3 separate regions of the Homo sapiens genome follow, and regions 1 and 2 are each linked to region 3. The links come from fine-mapping of genetic effects on gene expression. A gene starts in region 3. Each other region holds a variant in brackets. All regions are shown on one strand. Distances are from middle to middle.

Region 1 (8,184 bases), 250 kb before region 3:
GGTGCTGTCTTTGTATGAGTCTTCATTCAGTGTATCAAGTTCAGCAATGGCCTCATCAAAAGCCTGATAAATATTAATATCCATGGTAAAATATGTGCATTGACGAAAACTGGTTATTCTACAATTACAAACCATTTTTACAAAATAAGTGAACACCCACCTTATGTTCTACCATCAACAAACTCAACAGAACCATTCTCTCACACTCCCAGTTTAAGAACTTATGAGTATGACTGGAATTTTATAAAACTATACACTTAGTAAACAAGCATGTCTTGGTTCTTTCACAGGACAACGGAACAGCAGCAATGCTTAACAGACTTCTTTCCAGTTAAGTAGTACTTATCTCTACAGGGTCCTCTTTATTCTCTCGTTTTGAGCCACTTTGAGGAATGTGGCTGATGCACAGCTATTCTAGTAACCAAACCTGGCAGGCATGACTTTCTAATCTTTTATGTTTCCTTCTTAACATCATTTATCCTTCTTTGATTACTCTGCTCAGTATGCTCTGTAGGCACATCACTGCTTATAATCATAGGGTAGAGTAAGGTGTCAGGGGTAGGAGTAGGTAATCATGATGGGAAGAAAAAGAGGAGATTTCAAAATAAATATAGTAGAAATCATCCCTGGGTATCCAAGTAAAATACCTATAAATTAACATACCTGGTATCTCAAATAACTGTAGCTAAAGTACGTATTTCCTGGACACACATCTTACCGTTTTAGCCAGCGTGCAGGCAAGCTCTGGGTTATTAAGAATCTCATAGTAAAATACAGAAAAGTTAAGAGCAAGCCCCAGGCGGATTGGGTGTGTGGGTTGCATCTCTTTCTTGCTTATATCAAATGCCTCTTGGTAAGCTCCTTGGGAATTATCTATCGTTTCTGTGAAGAGCGAAAAATAAGAAGTGCAATATTAAAAATAACCATCCAGTACACAGTACATTAACAACTTGAACATATGCTACTAGCTCTTGGTAGAACCAAGATTTTTTCTCTGTATGGGTCTTTTAAAATCATGGTAGCTAACAAAAAACATTATCGTGGCCAGGCGCGGTGGCTCACGCCTATAATCCCAGCACTTTGGGAGGCCGAGGTGGGTGGATCACTTGAGATCAGGAGTTCAAGACCAGTCTAGCCAACATGGCGAAACCCCATCTCTACTAAAAATACAAAAATTAGCCAGGCGTGATGGCGGGCATCTGTAATCCCAGCTACTCAGGAGGCTGAGGCATGAGAATCGCTTGAACCTGGGAGGCTGAGGTTGCAGTGAGCCGACATCACACCACTGCACTCCAGCTTGGGCAACAGAACGATACTCTGTGTCAAAAACAAACAAACAAAAACAATATTGTGTACTGGGTATTTAAGAACTTGTTTATGGCCAGGTGCAGTGGCTCATGCCTCTAATCCCAACACTTTGGGAAGGTGAGGCAGGGGGATCACTTGAACCTGAAGAGTTCAAGACCAGCCTGGGCAACACAGGGAGATCTTATCCCTGTCTCTACAAAAAATAATAATAATAAAAAATAGCTAGGCATGGTAGTGCGTGCCTGTAGCTCTAGCTACTTGGGAGGCTGAGGTGGGAGGACCCCTTGAGCCCAGGAGGTTGAAGCTGCAGTGAGCCAAGATCATGCTGCTGCACTCCCAACCTCAGTGACAGTTTGTCTCAAACAAACAAACAAAACAAAAAACCAGTTTAGAATGTTGCTTACATATAAACAGCTTAATGGAAAAAAAACATGAGATATTATAGTAAATCAGACTTTTTTCCATACCTAGGCTAAAACTATTTTCTTATTTTATGTCTTTTAATTCTATTACTTGGAAATGCAGCAATTAAAAATAATTTGACTGGAATAATTTACAGTGGCTCACGCCTGTAATCCTAACACTTTGGGAGGCTGAGGCAGGCAGATCACCTGAGGTTGGAGGTACAAGACCAGCCTTACCAACATGGAGAAACCCCGTCTCTACTAATAATACAAAAATTAGATGGGAGTGGTGATGCATGCCTGTAATCCCAGCTACTTGGGAGGCTAGGCACAAGCCTCACTTGAACCCGGGAGGCGGAGCTTACGGTGAGCCAAGATCGCGCCATTGCACTTCAACCTGGGCAACAAGAGCAAAACTCCATTCAAAATTAATAATAATAATAATAATTTGACTGGAATACCCTTTCCCTAAATAATGTAAACTTTACAAAGATCATCAACACCAAAATCTCTATTTTTCTGATTTGCAGAAATACTGATTCTTAGTATCAAGTGGTATTATTTGAAAGGCAATATAAAAGTTTCAATAAATAGGACAAAATCTGCTCTGACCAGAGTTTGATTACTAGCCTAATTAAAATGTTACTCCCCCTTCAAAAAATGTTCAGTATTACCAACACTAATCTGATTATACCCATGTTTTGAAAAGGGTAGTTTTCTGTATGAGGCCACTGGCCTATTACAGCTTTAGAGATACTGACGTAAGAGAATTAAGCTATCCCTTTATGACCTGAATTATGTTCATTTTCTTTCCTCTGAAATGGCACATTTATTGATCTAATCCCTGACTGGTACAGCCCACATGCAATAAGAAGTTCTTGCAGCTTGGCAAATTAGGAAGCACCAGTGTCTCAGCAATTAGGCTATAAAGACAGCCTATCTATGAATCGCAGCCTATCAGAATGTACACAGGACTACGTGTGAGACCTGAAAGTGCCAATGAGCTCCTAAGGGTTAAATCAGGTTAAAGCTACAGCTATGTCTCAATCTCCCAAATACTTCTCTTTGGCTTTCTGATACTTAAATGTACAGTTCCGTGCCCGTATCATGTCCAATTCTGCTTACCTTCATGGCAACAGAAATTACACATCAGTAACAGAATAAGTAAGTTTAGTATATAGATTTTGTTATAGCAAGGTATAACAGTTTCTCAGGTACAAGTTCTCTTTATATATTCAGTTACACTGATATTTAGGATGGCAAAACTCTCATTTTCAGATCATAGTAACTATTTGTAGGGGTATATCTTTGTAGACAGGGCAAAATTAAGAACAAAACAACAAACTTACTGGAAAAAATAAGGACTGACACTTCTAATACCTAGAACTTGATAAATCTGGTAGCAAGCACATACACTAAATTTAATGAGATCTATCTTATATTCAGCTGCCAGTATCCCAAGAGACATTCACTGCAAATAAATTCACTTCACTTTTTTATTATCAAGTTAGGCAATTCGGTCACTTTTTCTCATATCCATGTTTTCTATGATAGTCTAGGTTAAAAAAAAAAGGTATTTAATACTAAAATCTATTTTTATGACCACTACTTGATTAATCAACAGTTCCTGTATATTCAACCTTCTCAAGTAAAACCTAACCATGAGTCATTCAAACTTACTGTGAAGTTGGAGCAAGTTATACACCAGCAATAACACACTCATTTCACCTCTCCTCAGAAATCTGATTATATGTAATTAGCAGTCAATGTTATGACCCCTTAAAATAGACGATAATGAATATGACAAACAGCAAAAGCACAACAACCTGTTTCCACGTTCTGTATGTAATTTCCAGTGATCTGAAGTTTTAAGGCATAATAGAAAGGCCATGTGAAATGCAGAATCACTCATAAAGTTTACACAAAAAACTCTGGAGCTAAAAATATGGTGAACCAAAATTCTAAAAAGCATAAAAGATTAATCCTGTTTTAAATAATACCATATGAGATTACAGAGTTCACAGATGAGCTTAATTTTTTTAAAGAGCATGTGATGTAAATTTATAATCCAATTTTCATTTTTGAGAACATAAGGTAATACTAATTTTCTTGACATACATTCAATTATTAAGTCACAAAGAGCCTGAAGACTACGTATACTGTCATAGTGTCCCATTTATCCCCATTTCTTTTTTTTATATTCTACTTTTGCCCATATAACAAATAAACTTACGTTTTCGATCATCACCACACGCAACTTCAGCAAGGTACCGGAAGTAATCACCCTTCATTTTCAGATAGAAGACCTTACTCTCTGGATTAGTTGCATTGGCTATTAAATATTTATCCAACAATTCCTGAAATAAATAAGACAGAACATTAGGCACTAAACTTCTGCCTACTGTGCATTATCATTAAATGATAAAACTTCTGCCTAGCGGGCATTTCAATCATTTACTACTACAGTAATACTATACCATACCAGCCTGGACTTGAAGCATGTTCTTAGAGCAGGGGTTAGGTTGTTGCCACTAGTTGCCCTGGGAGGCTTTAAATGATGTAGCCTATAGTTTCTAATGGTAAGGCTAGATTCTAGATTACACCAAACATTGTAATTTGAAACAGCCTATCTGTTCACTCATCCATTCATTCAACATTTACTCATACCTGCTAGGTGCTATAACGGATATAGAGAAGACTTAAAATCAGGCCCCTGCCCTCAAGAAGCTCACCGTCTGTAAGTACACCAACTACATACCAAGAACTAAGAAAGATGTGAATACGGTGCTAAGGAAGCACACAGATGGAGTAGCTCTGCTGGAGATGGCCTCCAGTTAAGACAGGCTTCCCAGGGAAAGAGTATTTGAGGCATGAAGAAGGAAAAGTAGAAATGCACCAAACAGAAAACAGGGATGTGCACTCATTTTAGGGACGGGAAACAAAATGTTTAAAACATCAAGTACGAGGGAGAATAGTGCTACTCAGTGCCCTTTGCATTCAAGTATCCATCTAAAATGAGGTAAATACAGGAATCGAGAGTAAGAGGTTTAGAAACTTGCACAGCAATTTAAAAGAATAATTTTAGGTCTACGAAATCTAATTATTTTTTTAAAAAAGTTCTTGAGTATGTCTTTTGTCCCTAATTTCATACAAAGAAATTTTCACTTCTAGTACATGGTATGCTATGCCTTGGAGTATAAAAAGTCACAAAAGACAAATATGATAGAA[ATCT/A]TCTTAGATTCCATTTTTCTTGATGCTAGGTCATCCATTTAAAAACCTTTTTAGGGCCGGGCGCGGTGGCTCACGGCTGTAATCCCAGCACTTTAGGATGCCAAGGCGGGCAGATAACAAGGTCAGGAGTTCGAGACCAGCCTGGCCAACATAATGAAACCCCGTCTCTACTAAAAATACAAAAAATTAGCCAAGCGTGATGGTGGGCACCTGTAATCCCAGCTACTCAGGAGGCTGAGGCAGGAGAATTGCTTGAACCTGGGAGGTGGAGGTTGCAGTGAGCCGAGATCATGCTACTGCACTGCAGCCCGGGTGACAGTGTGGACTCCATCTCAAAAAACAAAAACAAAAACAAAAAAAGCTTTTTTGTATTAAATATTACAAAGCAAAATGAAATTCTCATAAAAATGTTAAGATACTAATACCTACTTCATTGGTTTGTTTTGAGAATAAAACCAGTAACAGATGTCAAAGCCTGGAATAGTGTCACATGTTAAGTACTCAGTAAATGTTAGCTAGTATCAGCCTAGGTACACAGTTTGAAAAGCACTGCTCTAGGAAAAGTGAAACTAGTGAACGTTTTAAAGCAGGGAAGAGAGAAGATCCTTTTTACATTTTGGAAAAATAACCACAGATACGCTCAGTTAATATTATATAAAATACCATCCATGATACCAAGTTGGCAAGTCTGGAGAATTAACAAGTAAGGTTGAGTCAAATTCACATAACTGCTAAAGAAAAGGAAGGCTGTTTATAAATTTAAAAATATACAATTCTAACCAAGAACTTTCTTCTTGTTTATCTGACTAAAAGTGGTCTAACAAAATGCAATCACTGCATCCATGTCTTTTTTTTTTTTTTTTTTTTTGAGACAAAGTCTCACTCTGTTGCCCAGGCTAGAGTGCAGTGGTGATTCTCAAATGATTCTCCTGCCTCAGCCTCCCGAGCAGCTGGGACTACAGGCGCACACCACCACGCCCAGCTTACTTTTGTATTTTTAGTAGAGACAGGGTTTCACCATGTTGACCAGGCTGGTCTCAAACTCCTGACCTCAAGTGATCTGCCCACCTCGGCCTCCCAAAGTACTGGGATTACAGGCGTGAGCCACTGCGCCTGGCCCATAAGTTATTTTTAAAGAAAATAAACAGAGGCTGCGTACAACAGCTCACACCTACCATCCAAGCACTCTGGGAAGTAGAGGCAGAGGCAAGAGGATTGCCTGAGAGCCCAGGAGTTTGAGACCAGCCTGGGCAACATAATGGGACCCTGTCTCTACAAAGAATTTTAAAAAAATTAGGTGTGGTGGCATACACCTGTAATCCCAGCTACTTGGAAGGCTGAGGCAGAAGGAAGGCTTAAACCCCGGGGGTGGAGGCTGCAGTGAGCCATGATCGTGCCACTGCATTCCAGCCTGGGAGACAGAGCAAAAGAGATCCTGTCTGTCTCTAAAAGAAAAAAACCAGAAAAACATTAAAAATCCTTTAATTGAAAAAATATTTTAAATAGATTAAAAAAAATATATATATATATATATACACACACACACACACACACTTTTTTAAGGGCCTGAGGCCAGAGGAAGTTAAAACACACACACACACACACACACACGCACGCACAAAAAATTAGTATAAAATTATGTATCGAAGTCTCAGAAGTTTATGCATTATAGAAGTCATGAGTATCAAAATTGTGGCTCAAGTTGGAAAGTTGCTGAGCCAGGAGTGTGGCAAAAGAGGTCATTAGGGCCACACCCAAATTAAAGGCAACTGTGACAAGTGCTGCTCCAGTATCACTACACTCTTAACTGTAAAAACAACAGACAAATCAGTTTTTCAGAATTTATTGTGCTCAACATCACCAATATAATTTTAATAGTTTTTTAATAAACTGAGACACTCGAATCTTAAAAAATTATATTACTTTAACTTTTTCCTCTATTACCATTTTCATGTATTATGGATGACTTTCAATTTAAAAACTATTTTTATGAACTGAATTTAGGGTTGTGGTGGAAGGAGGAGGGTAGGAGGCAATAGTGAGATAGTCACAAAAAAAGTTCTAGATCTCAAACTGACTCAGTCATTGGTATCTTTAAATGAGTGGATTCTGAGAAGTAGTATCAAAGAAGGCAAACATAGTATTTATACCGAGAGAAATACCACCTCTGCCTGTACCCACACCAAGGAACTCTAATGTAAAGTAAGATGCCTCTCACTTTTCTTGTTCCTCCAAGTGAGTCAGTCAGTTACAATGAAATTCCACAGGATCTCCAAAAAGATGCCAGCTCTGGTGAAGATATTATTTATGGTCACAAAAAAAGCTACTCAGTACCTTTAAGACCTAGTGCTCTGTTAACTGTGGTAGATTTGTAAGAGCAGGGGCTGAGAAAAGTCTGACTAGAACAATGGCTTAGGGTGAGGAGTAGGGAAGAGAGAAATTTCCATTCTAGCACTAGTCTCTCCTGAGTCACTCATGCTAGATGTGTGGGTGTTCTCAAGGACTGTGGACAAAGGGCCTTCCAAGGATTCAGAAAGCTGCCAAACAGCTACTGCATTCATTACAACACAGCCACTTATGAGCTAACCTCTTCTTTCTAAAATTATTAACTTTGACTACTAGTTTGCATATAACCATTACGTATGATTTACAGTGTTGGGCTTTTACAAAGTGACTTGGGCATTACTTCCATCCTGGAGTTTCAGCCAGGTATCATGGTTCTTTGTCAGATGCCACTAGCTCTCTGTGAAGGAAACAACAGGTACAGAATAGTTCCGTCTTTCCATATACTATCAGTAGTAAAGATGTATACTTTAGCTCAACTAAAAGACATAATGGAGTCTGCTTCATGTCTTTCCCAAATAATCAAGTCTGTATCTGTATTATCAATACCAAATATTATTAATGCCAGATAGAATATAGCCTATAAATGTATAATATTTTAAAATTATTGTAAAAAACACGGATCAGAGACCAAAAACCCCAAACTGACACATAACTCCCTGAAAGTCTTTCCCAGAAGTCAGGAGCGAGGGCCAGGTGCCGTGACTCATGCCTGTTATCCCAGCACTTTGGGAGGCCGAGATGGGTGGATCACTTGAGGTCAGGAGTTCAAGACCAGCCTGACCACCACGGTGAAACCCCATTTCTACTAAAAATACAAAATTAGCCGGGTATGGTGACACATGCCTGTAATCCCAGCTATTTGGGAGGCTGACACAGGAGAACTGCTTGAACCCAG
Region 2 (8,184 bases), 94 kb after region 3:
AGTGCTCCAGTTTTTAGAATTTTCAGCTTTTCTGCTCTGGTTTCTCCCCACCTTTGTGGTTTTATCTACCTTTGGTCTCTGATGTTGGTGACCTACAGATGAGGTTTTGTTGTGGATGTCCTTTTTGTTGATGTTGATGCTACTCCTTTCTGTTTGTTAGTTTTCCTTCTAACAGTCAGGTCCCTCAGCTGCAGGTCTGTTGGAGTTTGCTGGAAGTCCACTCCAGACCCTGTTTGCCTGGGTATCACCAGTGGAGGCTGCAGAACAGCAAATATTGCTGCCTGATCCTTCCTCTGGAAGCTTTGTCCCAGGGGGCACCTGCCTGTATGAGGTGTCAGTCGGCCCTTACTGGGAGGTGTCTCCCAGTTAGGCTGCACGGGGGTCAGGGACCCACTTGAGGAGGCAGTCTGTCTGTTCTCAGAGCTCAAACACCATGCTGTGAGAACCACTGCTTTCTTCAGAGCTGTCAGACAGGGACGTTTAAGTCTGCAGAAGTTTCTGCTGCCTTTTGTTCAGCTGTGTGCTGCCCCCAGAGGTGTAGTTTACAGAGGCAGCAGGCCTTGCTGAGCTGCAGTGGGCTCTGCCCGGTTTGAGCTTCCTGACCGCTTTGTTTACCTACTCAAGCCTCAGCAATGGTGGACGCCCCTCCGCCTGCCAGGCTGCTGCCTCGCAGGTCAATCTCAGACTGCTGCACTAGCAGTGAGCAAGGCTCCGTGGGCGAGGGACCAGCTGAGCCAGGCTCAGGTTATAATCTCCTGGTGTGCCGTTTGCTAAGACCATTGGAAAAGCGCAGTATTTGGGTGGGAGTGTCCCGATTTTCCAGGTACAGTCTGTCATGGCTTCCCTTGGCTAGGAAAGGGAAATCCCTTCCCAGGTGAGGTGATGCCCCGCCCTGCTTCGGCTCACCCTCCGTGGGCTGCACCCACTGTGCAGCCAGTCCCAGTGAGATGAACCAGGTACCTCAGCTGGAAATGCAGAAATCACCCGTCTTCTGATCATGCTGGGAGCTGCAGACCAGAGCTGTTCCTGTTCAGCCATCTTGTAACGGAAGGCTTTCCTATTTTAAAATAATGGAAATTGCTTGGTAAACTCTTCTCTCACAATACATATAGTATTGCAAGCTACATTATAAAGTCTAGTGTCTTATTTTGGGTGGAAGTCAGGAATTATTTGTTTTCTTTAGTTTGTTTTAGAAATATGTTCAGAATCTCTCCCTGTGTGCTTTTGTTTGCCTTGACCATGGTAAGAAAGTGGAGTGGTGGCCCATCTGGAGTGAAGAAACTTTGAGCAAAGAGTTGAAGGACCAGCTCTTAGCACCACCTGTGGCCCTTGTGTGGTGGCCATGGACAGTGTGAACATGTTTTCCTTTGTGCAGTTAAGGAGTTAACAAATTCTTCTAAGTTTCCTTCCAGCTCAGGGTCCTGTTTTAAGCCTAACCATATATATTTGCTAAGTTATTTGGGGGGATGTTCAGGGGTTAGTGTGTGCATTTCTTGGTTACCATCTAAAGATAAATTCTTTTTTCTTTTTCCCTTCTAGCTATTGTACACATGTGACAACCTATGAAGAATCAAATTATTCTCTGAGTTATCAGTTTATACTAAATCTCTTCTCCTTCCTGCTCAGAATAAAGACTTCCCTTCTCCATGAAGAAGTGAGCTTAGTTGAGAAGAAACTTTTTGAGAAAAAATACAGTGTAAAAAGAAAGAAATCAAGATCCAAGAAAGTGAGACGACATTGAGAAAATGAAATAGAAACTTTCTGGAAAAATATTTTAATAGTGATAATAACATCAGATTTTAATATAACATTCCAGAGAATTGTGGAAAATACTGCATATATATGTATAGACTCTGACACATATTTACATATATATCAAGTGTGCTTAGAAAAATGTATATTGTAAAGCAGGTGAGCTTCATTTGATTTTATTTTTCAGAGTATGAACATTCTAAGAGAAAGTTAAAACAATAGCAAATTGTATAATTGTATCCAGAAATGTATACTCATCGTATTTTAAAGCTAAATTTATTTTTTAAACTAGATCCCTTCATTATTCTTTATGCCCCAGAGTAAATCCCAGATGGATCAAAGATCTAAACATAATCTTTCATATGTAAAAATATAAAAGTATTAGTAGAAAACAAATATGAATGCTTTGATGATCTTGGAATGGCAAAGTCAATTTTTGCAGCATATGGTGGACAAAGAAATAATTTCTTTAATGTATCAATAGCTCTTGCAAAGCAAAAGGAAAAAAGCAAACTGAGTAAGGGATATGAAAAATTAGTTTTCTGAGGCCGGGCGCGGTGGCTCACACCTGTAATCCCAGCACTTTGGGAGGCCGAGGTGGGCGGATCACGAGGTCAGGAGATCGAGACCATCCTAGCTAACATGGTGAAACCCCGTCTCTACTAAAAATACAAAAAATTAGCCGGGCATGGTGGCGGGCGCCTGTAGTCCCAGCTACTCAGGAGGCTGAGGCAGGAGAATGGCGTTAACCTAGGAGGCGGAGCTTGCAGTGAGCCGAGATTGCGCCACTGCACTGCAGCCTGGGTGACAGTGCAAGACTCTGTCTCAAAAAAAAAAAAAAGAAAAGAAAAATTAGTTTTCTGAAGGCCAAGCCAAAAAACATCATAGGATACTCGACCTCACTTATACTCAAGAAATACAAATTGAAATGAATACTGTTTCCCACATACTGGATTGGCAAAGATTATAAAGATGTGTAAAACCTGGTATGGACATTGGAAAATCAGGCATTCTTGTTCTGAGTTCATTTATGCATGCAACAGATAGCAACTCCTGTGTTCAGGCATGTTCTAAGCACTGGGGATACAGCACTGAACAAGACCCCCACCTTTAAAGATCATAGGTTCCAACTAGGTGAAAGCTGATAGTAAAAATATATATTATTTTTGAGGGAATTAAGTACAATGAAGAAAAAGCAAGAAAAGATAAATGATAAGGTAGGCCATTTTTTAAAGGGCGGCTGAGGGAGGATCCTCTGGGGCAGTGGCATTAGAGCAGAGACCAACTTGCCTGGAACACAGTAGCACGAGCAGCCATGCAGCCATCCAGGGGGAGATCAGCCCAGGCAGAGGAAAGATGTGCAGAGGTTCTGAGCAGGGGCATGCTGGATGCAGTCAAGGACTGGCAGGGTGTCCAGAGTGGCTGGAGCACTGTGGATAAAGGGGAGAGGGAGAGCAGATGGGCAGGTGGGATGGTAGAGGTTGCTCTGAGGTCACGGTAAGGATGACCTTACCACGGTTGGCTTTTTTCTCAAATGTCACAGGAAGCCACTGGAAATTTTTAAACAAAAGAATGATGTGATCCAACGTATATCATAAAAGTATCACTGACTACTCTGATGAGTACACCGTAGTGGGGATGTGAGCAGTGGTTAGAGAGTTCATTTTGAATTGAATGTATTTTGTTACTCTCTACCTGTTTCACTTATTGTAAGGTTTTCTTTTTTCTTTTCTTTTTTTTTTTTTTTTTTTTTTTTTTTTTGAGACAGGGTCTTGCTGTGTCACCCAGGCTGGAGTACAGTGGTGTGACCTTGGCTCACTGCAGCTTTGACTCCCTGGCTCAAATGCTCCTCCTGAGCCTGACTAGCTGAGACCACAGGCATGTGCCATCATATCCAGCTAAATTTTTTATTTTTTGTAGAGACAGAGGTCTCAGTATGTTGCCTAGGCTAGTCTTGAAATTCTCGGCTCAAGTGATCCTCCCACCTCAGCCTCCCAAAGTGCTGGGATTACAGGTATGAGCCACCACGCCTGGCTGACTACAACTTTTAATATTTTTTAATTTTTGCAACTTTTTTTTTTTTTTTGAGACAGAGTCTCACTCTGTCGCCCAGGCTGGAGTGCAGTGGCACGATCTCGGCTCACTGCAAGCCCCGCCTCCCGGCTTCATGCCATTCTCCTGCCTCAGCCTCCTGAGTAGCTGGGACTACAGGCGCCCACCACCACGCCAGCTAATTTTTGAATTTTTAGTAGAGATGGGGTTTCACCGTGTTAGCCAGGATGGTCTCGATCTGACCTCGTGATCCACCCGCCTTGGCCTCCTAAAGTGCTGGGATTACAGGCGTGAGCCACCGTGCCCAGCCTAATTTTTGTAACTTTTTATAATGAGACTTACACATTGATTTAAATTATATACAGGATGCTCAGCCAGCACAAAGCTGTGGTGAGATTTGGGCCCAAGTCTCCGACTCCAGATTCCAAACCACATTAAAAAAAAAAAAATCACCTGCAGACTGCCTATAGCTTTAACAGTCTCTGTCTCCCCTTCTTCACATCCTTCCGGTGGAGAAAAGTTTGTGAATATTAAGTAAATTTGATTCAATAGACATTTTATTTTTTTGTAAAGATGATGGGGTCTTGCTATGCTGCTCAGGATGGTCTTGAACTCGTGACCTCAGGTGATCCTCCCACCTCTGTCTCCCAAAGTGCTGGAATTACAGATGTGAGCCACTGCGCCCAGCCTGGTTTGGTAGTTTCTTAAAAGTGAAAATTAGACCTACCATGTGACCCAGCCATTCCACTACTAGGTGTCTACCCAAGAAAAATAAAAGCATGTTTCCACACAAAGACTTGTATACAAATATTCATAGCAACTTTATTTGGAATAGCAAAAAAAAGGGAAAACAACCCAAACAGCCATCAGCAGGTGAATGGATAAACACATGGTGGATATCCATACAATGAAACACTGCTCAGCTGTGAAAAAGGAACAAACTATTGAAACAATATCCCTGTTCAGGAGCAGGATTTGGAGAATATAAGAAGCATATCTTTTATAATTTAAAAACTTGCTTTCTAAGATTTGAACTGAAAGATCTTTTTTGAAGATGAGTGTCATGGAATTGACATGATTTGAAGTGTTATGGCACTTCCTTTGAATAAAAAAATC[A/G]AAGTTGCTAACAAGTTCCATGTACTTAAAAATATTGGGACAGAGCGCTCAAAGCTATGAAAAGTTTTGGGCCACCCATGAATATGAGATAAGATTAACAAGAGAGGAGAAGGAAGTGAAAAATATGGCTTTCCATGCATTTCCAATTGTATGAATTACCATTGAAGGCTAGTGATGAAATGTTACTCTCTAGGAGTCAGTGTTTTCACATCTAAAAATGGTATCAGTCATAGAAAAAGCTTATCTGTCTACTGCCAAAAAGGGAAGAGGGTAATAGCACGTATTGAGCACCTACTGTATATTCAGATGAGGTCCTGCCATACGAAATTCAGTCCCCACTGTTCTGGGGGCCATGCAATCGTCTTTAGATAATAGGTGTGGGGCTAGGGGTTCCGCTGTGAAGTTACCTTCCTTCCCAGGGTGCTCAGCCAGCACAAAGCTGTGGTGAGATTTGGGTCCAGGTCTCAGACTCCAGATTCCAAACCACATTTAAAAAAATAAAATCATCACCTGCAGACTGCCTATAGCTTTGACAGTCTCTGTGTCTCCCTTTCGTTTGCATCCTTCGGGTGGAGAAAGGTTTATGAATATTTTAGTAAATTTGATTCAAAAGACATTTCTTGATTATCACATTGGTTCTCAAAGTGTGGTCCCTGGACCAGTGACATCAGCATTACCTGGGCACTCATTAGAAATGCACATTCTCAGGCCTACTCCTGACTCCCAATCCAGAAACACAGTGTGGGTCCAACAATCTGTTTTAACAAGTCCTCTGGTTCGCTCCAGGCTCCAGGGTGGGACAGTCACTGGTGCTTCTGCTGGCTGGGACAACAGGGCCCCACTGTGGAACTTGCAGCCCGTGACCCCCTCCTAACGGCTCCTCTCAGTTCCCGTGGTCCCAAAAGCCCTCTGTCCCGTGCAGGGCTGCCCCACAGTGGCCTTCCACATCCTCCTGATAGCAGAGGCCCCCGCCACCCCCAGGGCCACCTCTGCAGCTGTGCCGCAGCTTCTCTGCCCAGGCACCTGCACTGACACGGAGCACCCTGTAGGTTGTCTGCTTGAGGCCTTTACCTAAATGCTTGCCGCAGCTGTTTCTAAACTACAAAAGCACACAATCATGAAATGAGGCAGAGGTGGGCTGAGTGCCACAATGGATGCCAAGAGGAAGAGAGATGGACATGGCGCTGGGAGGCTCTGGGCACCACTGGAGGGGGGCGCTGAGTTCCCGGGCTGCCCCGGCTGGGAGAGGAGTCGAGTCTTAATCTCCTTTAAGGAAACATAATAAATAAACTACTTTGCCACTAGAGTGATTTATGTGTTGATTTGGGTGGAATCTCTTTCATGAACACATTTTATGTCTTTTTAAAAAAATTAGATTATTTCTTGGCCAGGTGTGGGCACAGGGTGGCTCATGCCTGTTATCCCAGCACTTTGGGAGGCCAAGGTGGGTGCATCACTTGAGGTCAGGAGTTGAAGATCAGCCTGGCCAACATAGTGAAACCCTGTCTCTACTAAAAATACAAAAATTTGCTGAGAGTTTGTGGCAGGTGCCTGTAATCCCAGCTACTTGAGAGGCTGAGGCAGGAGAATCGCTTGAACCCAGGAGGCAGAGGTTGCAGTGAGCTGAGATCATGCCACTGCACTCTAGCCTGGGCAACAGAATGAGACTCCATCTTATAAATAAATAAATTAGATTTCCTACCACTACAGTGAAGCATAATTTTATGATTTAGGCAACTACCCTAAAGGGAAATAAAACTAAGTGAGATTCCACATGGTCTCAGTAATACCTGTAGTGCAAAATCAAATGCTTATAGGGAGTGAAACAGAATGCGGCCGATACCTGTGGAAAAGAGTGCTTCAATTGTCTTATGTCTACGACCAGCCTAAGCTCATAGCCATACAAATATATATACCATACATGTGCTGAAACTAAGTTAAATTTCTTGTTTTTAATTGTCTTAAGTATCAAACTTGGATCATCAGAACATGTTGGAAAAACACGGCTCTGAAGCCAACTTATTAAGCACCTGTGCTGTATCGAACATTTTACATTTGTTCATTTAACATATCTAGATAAATCTACTCATTTACAGCTATAGTGATCCAAGATTTCATCACAGCAGATTAAAACAAAACCTTTAAGTTAAAAATAATTTAAAATCAGTGAATATATTAATACTATGAGAGTCTTTGCCTATGAGAATACAGAACTTTGGCCCAAATGTTTCATTAATCTACAGGGTTATATACATTTGGAGCACAGTTTTGTTGTTTGTTTGTTTGTTTTTAATCCTCTTCCCAAAAATGGGTTTCTTTAGGCAGCTCGAGACTCCTGTGTTAGACAAGAGGAAAAGGAGTGGGTGCCTCTCGACTGGGACCAGTGGACATTATTATGGGAATATACCAGTGGTGGCAGGTTGATGACCTTATCTCCCTGCAGGGTAGTATTTCTCTCTGGGCTCTCAGCAGGTCTGCCTGTCACTGCCACCCAGAAGTGGAGCCACCTTCTGAAGCCCAAACCGAGGAGGGAGAGCCCAGGGTCCTCTGAAGCCCAAACCGAGGAGGGAGAGCCCAGGGTCCTCAGGCGCCTCGCAGCAGGAGGCCAGGAGTTCACCCACAGTGTCTAGTTCCTTGTTATCTTTCTTTTTCCCTCCATTGGCACAAAGCCACCTAGAAAAAAAAAGGAGTATTAATTCATCCCTCTATTCACACAAGAAGACAACATATTGTTTAAATAAGAAAGGAGCATGATTTCCCGAATCTTCAGCAAGACCTTGAATACAGTTTCCAAAGTAGGCCTGCTGTAAAAGTTCTGTGGATTATTATAAACTGCAGGTAGTTAAGAGTGTGTGTTTTTATCTTGAGTATGTAGCTGGTGACTTTTTAAAAAAATTAAAATGCCTCTGTGTTCCTGAAAGCTGAGTAAATTCACACAGTATTAAGTCTCTCACAAAACGAATTCAAGCAGCTCTAAGTGTATGTTCCCTTGTTTCGTGCCCTTGTGAAGTATTTAAGCATAAAGAGCTTTAGTGCCAGACTTACCTGATAATATGCTATGACTTCAGAAGAGCTTACAAAAGAGTGCTTTTATTGACTTTATAAATTAAGAACCTGGTATTTCAGCTCAGTTGGCCTTCTGCCCTTCTGAAACAATCATTCCCTTCTGGGACAATTAGTACATGTTTTATGGATATTTGCGTTGAACTGGGTGACTTGCAGACACTCCCAAAGGAATTTTTAGTTAGAATACCACTTAAACGC
Region 3 (8,184 bases):
TTTTTTAAAAAACAGGAAAGTAAGTATTCCTGGGATGACAAGTAGTTGTCAGTAGTATTGGCAGATATTTTTGAAATGGGGAATACACTTAATTTGTCCCTTCAGGGTAAAGGGAATGTTTTAACAAAGTGAGCATCAGAATGGCTGGGTGTCTTGACTGCCTTATCTTTATATTTATGATTGCAAATGTCAAGTAGGCCCTCATGCTGCTTGCAATTTTTGCTAGATTCCTGATTCCATTCTTCCATTTCCAAGAGTTATTACACCTCTGGTCTCCTCTCAAACTTCCCACAGCCCTCCCCACTCCCACTCTCAACTGATGACTTGCTTCCATTTCAATGAAGCTCAGAGAACAGACCTTCCACCTCATGCACCTGCGCTGTCCCACGTGCTCTCCCTTCTTTCCTGGTTCTGCAGCAGATGAACCCTCTATGCTAGGGCTGACCCCTCCATGGTGCTGCAGATCCTCTCCCTTCTCACGCACTGCATTAGTCTGTTTTCACACTGCTGATAAAGACATACCCGAGACCGGGCAATTTACAAAAGGAGGAGGTTCAAATGGACTTATTCAGTTCCATGTGGCTGGGGAAGCCTCACAATCATGGTGGAAGGCAAGGCCTTGACCTCCTAAAATCCTGGGATTATAGGCATGAGCCACCAAGCCTGATCTAATTTGTACTTGTCTGATAAGTAATGACGTTGCGTACATTTTCATATATTTATTGACCATTTAGCTGTTATCTTTTATGAAATACCTGTTCAAATCTTTTTGCCTATTTTTAACTGGATTGTTTATTATTTCTTAATAGATCGGTAGGAAACCTTTGTTACATGTCTTGTCGAATATGTATTGTGAATTTCTTCTCTCAGTTTTTAGTTTGCTTTAATTATGTCTTTTTTTTTTTAATTTTTTTTAAAGACAGGGTCTCTGTCACCCAGGCTGGAGGGAAGTGTCATGATCACAGCTCACTGCAGCCTTGACTTCCCGGGCTGAAGCAATCCCCCCGACCCAGCCTCCTGAGTAGCTGGAACTACAGGCATGCCCACCACACCCAACTAAGTTTTAAAAAAATTTTGTAGAGATAGGATCTCTCTATGTTGCCCAGGCTGATCTTGAACTTCTGGGCTGAAGCAATCCTCCCACCTCGGCCTCTGAAAGTGCTAGGTTCTAGGCGTGAGCCACTGTGCTCAGCCTAACAATGTCTTCTGATGAATCGAAGTTCTTAATTTAATGAAATCCAGTGTAATGACCTTTTCTCTTAGGAGTAGTGCTTTTTGTGCCCTGTTGATGAAGTCTATTCCACACCAAATCATAAAGATATTTACCACTTTTTTTTTCTAGAAGCTTTATGGTTTTACCTATCACATGTAGGATCTATTTGAATTAATTTTTGTGTACAGTGTGAGAAAGGGGTCAATAATTTTCTCATATGCATGTCTGATTGATTCAGAACCATTTATTGAAAAACTATTCTTTCAGCTCACGCCTATAATCCCAGCACTTTGGGAGGCCGAGGTGGGTGGATCACTAGAGGCTATGAGTTCGAGACCAGCCTGGCCAACATGGCAAAATTCCATCTCTACTAAAAAATACAAAATTAGCCAGGTGTCATGGCACATGCCTGTAGTCCCAGCTACCTCTACTTGGGAAGCTAAGGCCCGAGAATTGCTTGAACCTGAGTGGCAGAGGTTGCAGTGAGCCGCGATTGTGCCATTGCACTCCAGCCTGGGCAACAGAGCAAGACTCTATCTCAAAAAAGAAACAAAGAAAAAGGAGAAAAGCTATTCTTTCCTCACTGAATTTTAGTAGCAGCTTTGTTGTAAATCAGATTATTTTATATGTACTTATGAGTCCGTTTCTGGACTTTCTATTCAGTTCTGTCAATTTTTTGGTCTATCCTTGCATCACACTAGATTACTGTATGATTTATTTTTTTCTCTTTTATTTATTTTTTAAATCTTTATTCTTTTTTCTCTACTTTTTCTTTTAACATTTTTTAATTTTGAGAAAAGGTCTTGCTTTGTCATGTAGGCTGGAATGCAGTGGCGTGACCACAGCTCACTGCAGCCTCAACCGATCCTCCCACCTCAGTCTCCTAGGTACCTGGGACTATTGGACTGTGCCACCACACCCAGCTAATTTTTTAATTTTTTGCAGAAATGAGGTCTCATTATGTTTCCCAGGCTGATCTCAAACTCCTGGGCTTAAGTGTTCTGTCCACCTTGGCCTTCCAAAATGCTGAGATTACAGGCTCGATGTTAAACAAACTTGCATTCCTAGAATAAACCTAACTTGGCTGTGATTTATTATCCTATTTATATATTGCTGAGTACAACAGGATGTACATTCAATTTACTGATGTTTTGTTTGGAACTTTTGCATGTATGTTTATGAGAGGAATTGCTTTTTAATTTTGACTTTTCTTGAAATATCCTTGTCAAGTTTTGGTGTCAAGGTCATGCTTGTCTCCTAAAATGTACTGGTAAATGCTCTTCTTTTTTCATTATTTGGAAGCATCTGTATAAGATGGGTGTTATTTATTTCTTTTTAAAATTATTATTATTATTGAGACAGAGTCTCTCTCTATCAACCAGGCTGGAGTGCAATGGCATGATCTTGGCCCACTGCAACCTCTGCCTCCCAGGTTCAAGCAATTCTTGTGCCTCAGCCTCCCAGGTAGCTAGGATTACAGGCGTGCAACACCATGCCCAGCTAATTTTTGTATTTTTAGTAGAGACGAGGTTTTGTCATGTTGGTCAGGCTGGTCTCGAACTCCTGGCCTCAAATATTCTCCTGCCTCAGCCTCCTAAAGTGGTGGGATTACAGGCGTGAGCCACCATGACTGGCCTATTTCTTTCTTAAAAATTTGGTAGAATTTGGCCAGGCGTGGTGGCTCATGCCTGTAACCCCAGTACTTTGGGAGGCCGAGGTGGGCAGGTCAGGAGTTCAAGATCAGCCTGGCCAATATGGTGAAACTCCATCTCTACTAAAAATACAAAACTTAGCCAGGTGTGGTGGTAGGCGCCTGTAGTCCCAGCTATTTAGGAGGCTGAGGCAGGAGAATTGCTTGAACCTGGGAAGCGGAGGTTGCAGTGGGCTGAGATGGTGCCACTGCACTCCAGACTGGGTGAAAGAGCAAGACTGTCTTAAAAAAAAAAATTGGTGGAATTTTCACATTTATTGGCCTAGAGTTGTTCAGAATATGCCCTTATGATCTTTTTAATGTCTGTGGTATTTGCAGTGATGCCCCTACATATTGGTTAGTGATGCCACTGATATCAGTTTATTTTGATTTTCTTTGCTCCGTTGCTCAGACTGGAGCACAGTGGCCCGATTATAGCTCACTGCAGCCTTGAGCTCAAGCAAACCTCCCGTCTCATCCTCCCAAGTAGCTAGGACTGTAGGTGTGCATCACCAAGCTGGGCTCTTTTCTTTTTGATCAATCTTTCCAGAGTTTATCGAATGTATTAGTATTTTCAAAGAGCTAATGTTAGTTGGTTGAGACTCTCTTCTTAAAAAATATCTTTTAGGCTGGGCGTGGTGGCTCACGCCTGTAATCCTAGCACTTTGGGAGGCCGAGGTGGGCAGATCACTTGAGGTCAGGAGTTCGAGATCAGCCCAGCCAACCTGGTGAAACCCCGTCTCTACTAAAAATACAAAAATTCGCCAGGCGTCGTGGCGCGTGCCTATAATCCCAGCTACTTGGGAGGCTGAGGCAGGAGAATTGCTTGAACCTGGGAGGTGGAGGCTGCACTGAGCTGAGATTGAACCATTGTACTCCAGCCTATAGAGATGAGGACTCAATATGTTGGGCAGGCTGGTCTCCAACTCCCGCCCTCCAGCAATCTGCCCGCCTTCGCCTCCCACAGTGATGGGATTACAGGCACCAGCCACCACAGCAAGCCTTTGTGGAGCCTATCGAAGCTTGCTTTCTCTTTTATTAATTTCTCTTTTTTAAACATTTCCTTCATCCCATTATTTTTCAGTTTAATCTTTTTTCTAACTTCTTGGGATGTACGATTATATCAAAAATCCTCTTCTCAATGAGATCTCTCTTGAACATCACATTTCAGACTGAAATCACCTTGTTGTTCCCATTCTCCTCTCCTCTTTATTTTTCTCCTTGGAACTCACCACCACTTAACATACCACATATTTTCCTTATTTATTTTTGTCTCTCCCCATCAGAATACAATCTCCATGAAGGCAAGGACTTTTGTTTACTTTGTTCACTGCTGAATCCCCAGGACACAAACCAGTTCCTGTTTAATAAATAAAACAAGGAATGAATGTGTTAGATGAAGAAACAATAAGAGCTAAATTTATTGAGCACTTACTGAGACTCAATTATATTCACTCATGCATTTATTTATTCAGTTATTTACTTATGCAGAGAAGGGGTCTCGCTTTGTTGCCCCGGCTGGTCTCCAACTCCTGGCCTCAAGCAATCCTCCCGACTCAGCCTCCCCAGGATTACAGGCGTGAACCAGCACGCCCGGTGGAGACTCAATTATAAGGGGCTCACAGATAACATCTAATTCTTACAGAGGAGTAAACTGAGGCACAAGTAAGCAGGAGAGCCGTGATTAGAAACCTAGGTCTAACTCACAGCCCGTGAGCTTTCCTCCAAGCCCCGAGGCTTCCCCTTAAAAAAGCCAGCAAGGGGCGAGACTCGGAGGGCAGAACCCACGGAGGGCGGAACCCACAGAGGACAGAGCCCGCGCTCGCGAGCACGGCCTTGTCCGACCCCCCGTGCCGCCGGAGGAGCAAGTCTGTCTTGGAATGAATGATCGTCGGAACGGAGCTTGATCAAACCACTCAGCAGTAGGCGTCGCCCACTTTCTTATTGGTTGGTTTTGGTTCTCAAGAGTAGGAAAGTTAGGTAGTCCGCGAGGGGTCTGCGAGCTTTGCGGAGCCTCGCCCCCGAGCGCGCGGTTTCCCTGCCGCGCAGGCGCACGGAATCCTAGGCGCGGATCTCGCGTTTCCGGCCGGAAGCTTCTCCAGCCTTTCCCGGAAGCTGCGCTCGCTACCCGGGTAACGGGTCCCGGCTGTGGAAGCTCCCGCGGCGCCGCGATGGACCTCGAGGAGGCGGTAAGGAGGCGGTGCACCTGGCGGGCCACGATCGCCGGGGCCGGAGGAGAGAGAAGCTGAGGAGGAGCGGCGGAGGACGCCGCGGGTTGGGGCGGCGACGCCACCGGCTGGAGGAAGGCGGGGCGGAGGGCTGCAGGGCGGGCTAAGGACTGGGGCTGGCCGGCCGCATGCGCGCGCGGCTTTGGTAAAGAGGCTGGAGTTTCTGGCTCGGCGAGGTTGTGGGGGAGGGAGGGTGTGGTGTTTGTCGTTATGGGTGTGTTTAAGGATGAAGCTGTGGGTTTTGTGGGGTGGCCACCCACAGGGCTCATCCTCGAGACTGGACCACCCACAAGTTCCCTTTAATGCTGGGGTGGGTGAGGGAGGGGCAGGGGTTGGAACCTGAGATGCCGCCGGGTAACCCCTGTCGGTCTCTCCGGGAATCCTTGCCACTGTCTCCAGCAGGGATTCTAAATTCGGGTTTGGGAACTCCCCAAATTGTCCAGCTATCATTCATCGTAGTGTTAGTACGGGGTCACTGAACACTTTACCAAGTTGCCAAAATTGATTTGGCATGCATTTTGTTTTGTTTTAGGTACTACGTAAAATGGCACATTTTTGTTTTTTATTTTTGAGACAAGATCTCACTTCTTCCCCCAGGCTGGAGTACAGTGGCACGATCACGGCTCACTGCAGCCTCGAATCCTGGGCTCGAGAGATCCTTCCGCCTCAGCCTTCCAATGAGCTAGGGCTACAGACATGCACCACCAAGCCCGGCTAATTTTTTTTTTTTTAATTTTTTGTAGGGGCAGGGGTCTCGCTATGTTGTCCAGACTGGTATTGAACTCCTGGGCTCAGGCGATCTTCCTGCCTCAGCCTCGCAAAGTGCTGGGATTATAGGGGTGATCCCCCGCCCTCGGCCAAATGGCACACGCTTTGATGGTATTAAATGATACTCGATAATTAGATCAATGCTAACAACAAGTCAAACTCCAAAGAGTTGGGGATCAGAGAATTAGGCCTGTATATACAGGAGCAGTACGGTCTTATAGTAGAGGCTTAAAAAATGTTTACTGATGATGGTTGGCTAACTTCTGTAAATGCTAGGCTGATGAAATGAATAATTGTAACTCACCATTAGCTAGCGTATACCCAGACTAGGGATCATGTCTGGTCTGTTTTGCTCACCATTGAATCCCCAGCACCTAGTAAAAAGCCTGGTACACACATAGTTGATACCCCTTATGCTGCCGAGTGAATAAATCGAAACTTGAAACCATTACAAATCTAGTTCCTCTGTGGTATGCGCTTTTAGTGTCCTGGAGGAGTTCCAAATTGTATTTGCATTTTTTAAAAGTCTTCTCTATACTTGTTTGTCATCTTCTCACAGTATTTTCAAGGAGCTTTGTTTACTCATCTTTGGTTCCAGTTTACCCCTACTACCTCCTTTTCTTTTTTTTTCCTGTCACACTGCATATTTCAATAAATTTTCTCCAGTAGTTTAATTCGGTTTCATACCGCGCCTCTCCTTGTTTGCGGATAATCTCTCTGACATATTTTTTATTGTCTATGATTTTTTATTAATAAAGTTGCCAGGAACCCATTAAATAGAACTGCAAGGTTTAGGTACGATGTATTGAATGTGGCTTGATGGGAACACCTTTTCTGTCCTCTTCTCCCATAGGAAGAGTTTAAAGAACGCTGTACTCAGTGTGCTGCTGTCTCATGGGGTCTTACTGATGAAGGCAAATATTATTGCACTTCTTGCCACAATGTTACAGAGGTAAGTAACAAATATCATTTATGAATTTGCTTATGTTTTAAAAATTGCCATTTCAGCCTGATATGTAGTCTAAGTCCCAAAGAATTGGGTTGATTTTTGTCACTCATGCAATGCCAACATTCCAAGGATGCATGTGGTCTTAGGTACTTACACATAGGTTAAGGGATTTGTGAATTAGATTGAGGATGAGTTTTTGAAATTATGTTGGGCCACATTTATAAATGATTTCTTATTCAGAGTATGTGGTTGAGGGAAATAATTAAAATTGTACTTAGAAGATGATGCATTTCTTTTTATCAGTTAGTACTTATTTACATTTTTTTAAATGTGTCATGGTGGCTTAGAGGTTTGGAAGATGGAATGTTAGAAAACTTGAGGACTGGGCCGGGCGCAGTGGCTTACGCCTGTAATCCCAGCACTTTGGGAGGCTAAGGCAGGTGGATCACCTGAGGTCGGGAGTTTGAGACCAGTCTGTCCAACAATGGGAAACTCCGTCTCTACTAAAAATACAACAATTAGCCAGGCGTGGTAGCATGCGCCTGTAGTCCCAGCTACTTGAGAGGCTGAGGCAGGAGAATCGCTTGGACCCAGGAGGCGGAGGTTGCAGTGAGACGAGATCACGCCACTGTACTCCAGCCTGGGCAGCAGAGCAAGACTCTGTCTAAAAAAGAGAAAGAAAGCTTGAGGACTGTTGGGAATATTGGAATTATTCTTCGTTATCCTTTTACCTTTGTATAGTACCTTACAGATTACAAAGTTTTTGGATCCATTATCTCATTTCCTCCTCATCACTAACTGTGAGAGCCTATTGATAGGGCTCAGAAGTTGAGTGAGTTTGCCAAAGTTACCCAAGTACCAGGACTTGAATGTGAGTCTTCTGACTTCAGTGTTCATTTTACCCATCACACCTGCCTCTTAAAGTAGAGATTGTCATATTGTCCTGTGTAACCTTGGTAAACGAGGCTACCTTCACATTGTGAGTGCTAGGTCCTATTGTGGTGAACACACCTTCGGGCCAGCATCACCAAAGTGATCAAGGGTGTAGAGAGTCTGCTGCTGGACAGGCTAAATGTGCCAGGACTCTCCTCAGTGGAAAAGGATTTCCTCAAAGTCTACAGATCCAGGAAGGAACAAATGTTACCTTCACCATACAGGCTTAAGAAAGGCAAATTTGGGACATTAAAAGTAACTGTGTAGACTTCTGCTTCTGGCTAAGATGGACTAACAGAGACCAGACTTACCTTTGTCCCCTAAACAATGAAAAACCTGGACAAAATATATTAAATGAGTAAAAGGAAAAACATTTTCCCTTGACAAAACTGGTGAATTGAGC

Alleles and levels. Positions count from the first base shown, and alleles are read on the strand shown. Sizes are in standard deviations (SD) of each study's normalised expression. Not every link is listed here.
For the expression in spinal cord of the gene that starts at base 5,007 in region 3, ATCT is the high allele of the variant in region 1 and A is the other (moderate effect, 0.43 SD a copy in GTEx).

Evidence for each region. PIP is the estimated chance that this variant, and not a neighbour inherited with it, causes the effect. A credible set is the group of variants that fine-mapping cannot tell apart.
Region 1: its variant is the best candidate, but not a certain one, in a credible set for the expression of TAF1B in spinal cord (GTEx, PIP 0.72).
Region 2: its variant is the best candidate, but not a certain one, in a credible set for the expression of TAF1B in whole blood (TOPMed, PIP 0.51).

Annotation. Positions count from the first base shown.
Region 1 is chr2:9,587,447-9,595,630 of GRCh38, forward strand. It overlaps YWHAQ (tyrosine 3-monooxygenase/tryptophan 5-monooxygenase activation protein theta), which reads right to left. Exons shown (of 6, transcript NM_006826.4): 3 at 3,946-4,069; 4 at 719-882; 5 at 1-63. Among named protein-coding and RNA genes, the nearest start is that of ADAM17, 36 kb to the left of the region's middle. The variant ATCT/A (reference allele first, on the strand shown) is at 4,941.
Region 2 is chr2:9,932,244-9,940,427 of GRCh38, forward strand. It overlaps TAF1B (TATA-box binding protein associated factor, RNA polymerase I subunit B), which reads left to right. Exons shown (of 15, transcript NM_005680.3): 15 at 1,540-2,173. The coding sequence ends at 1,741. LOC105373422 (a long non-coding RNA gene) reads right to left here. Exons shown (of 3, transcript XR_922784.4): 3 at 7,195-7,593. Among named protein-coding and RNA genes, the nearest start is that of GRHL1, 15 kb to the right of the region's middle. RefSeq lists silencers at 800-1,005, 6,013-6,352. The variant A/G (reference allele first, on the strand shown) is at 4,921.
Region 3 is chr2:9,838,468-9,846,651 of GRCh38, forward strand. It overlaps TAF1B (TATA-box binding protein associated factor, RNA polymerase I subunit B), which reads left to right and starts at 5,007. Exons shown (of 15, transcript NM_005680.3): 1 at 5,007-5,092; 2 at 6,753-6,851. The coding sequence starts at 5,075. RefSeq lists a silencer at 5,288-5,367.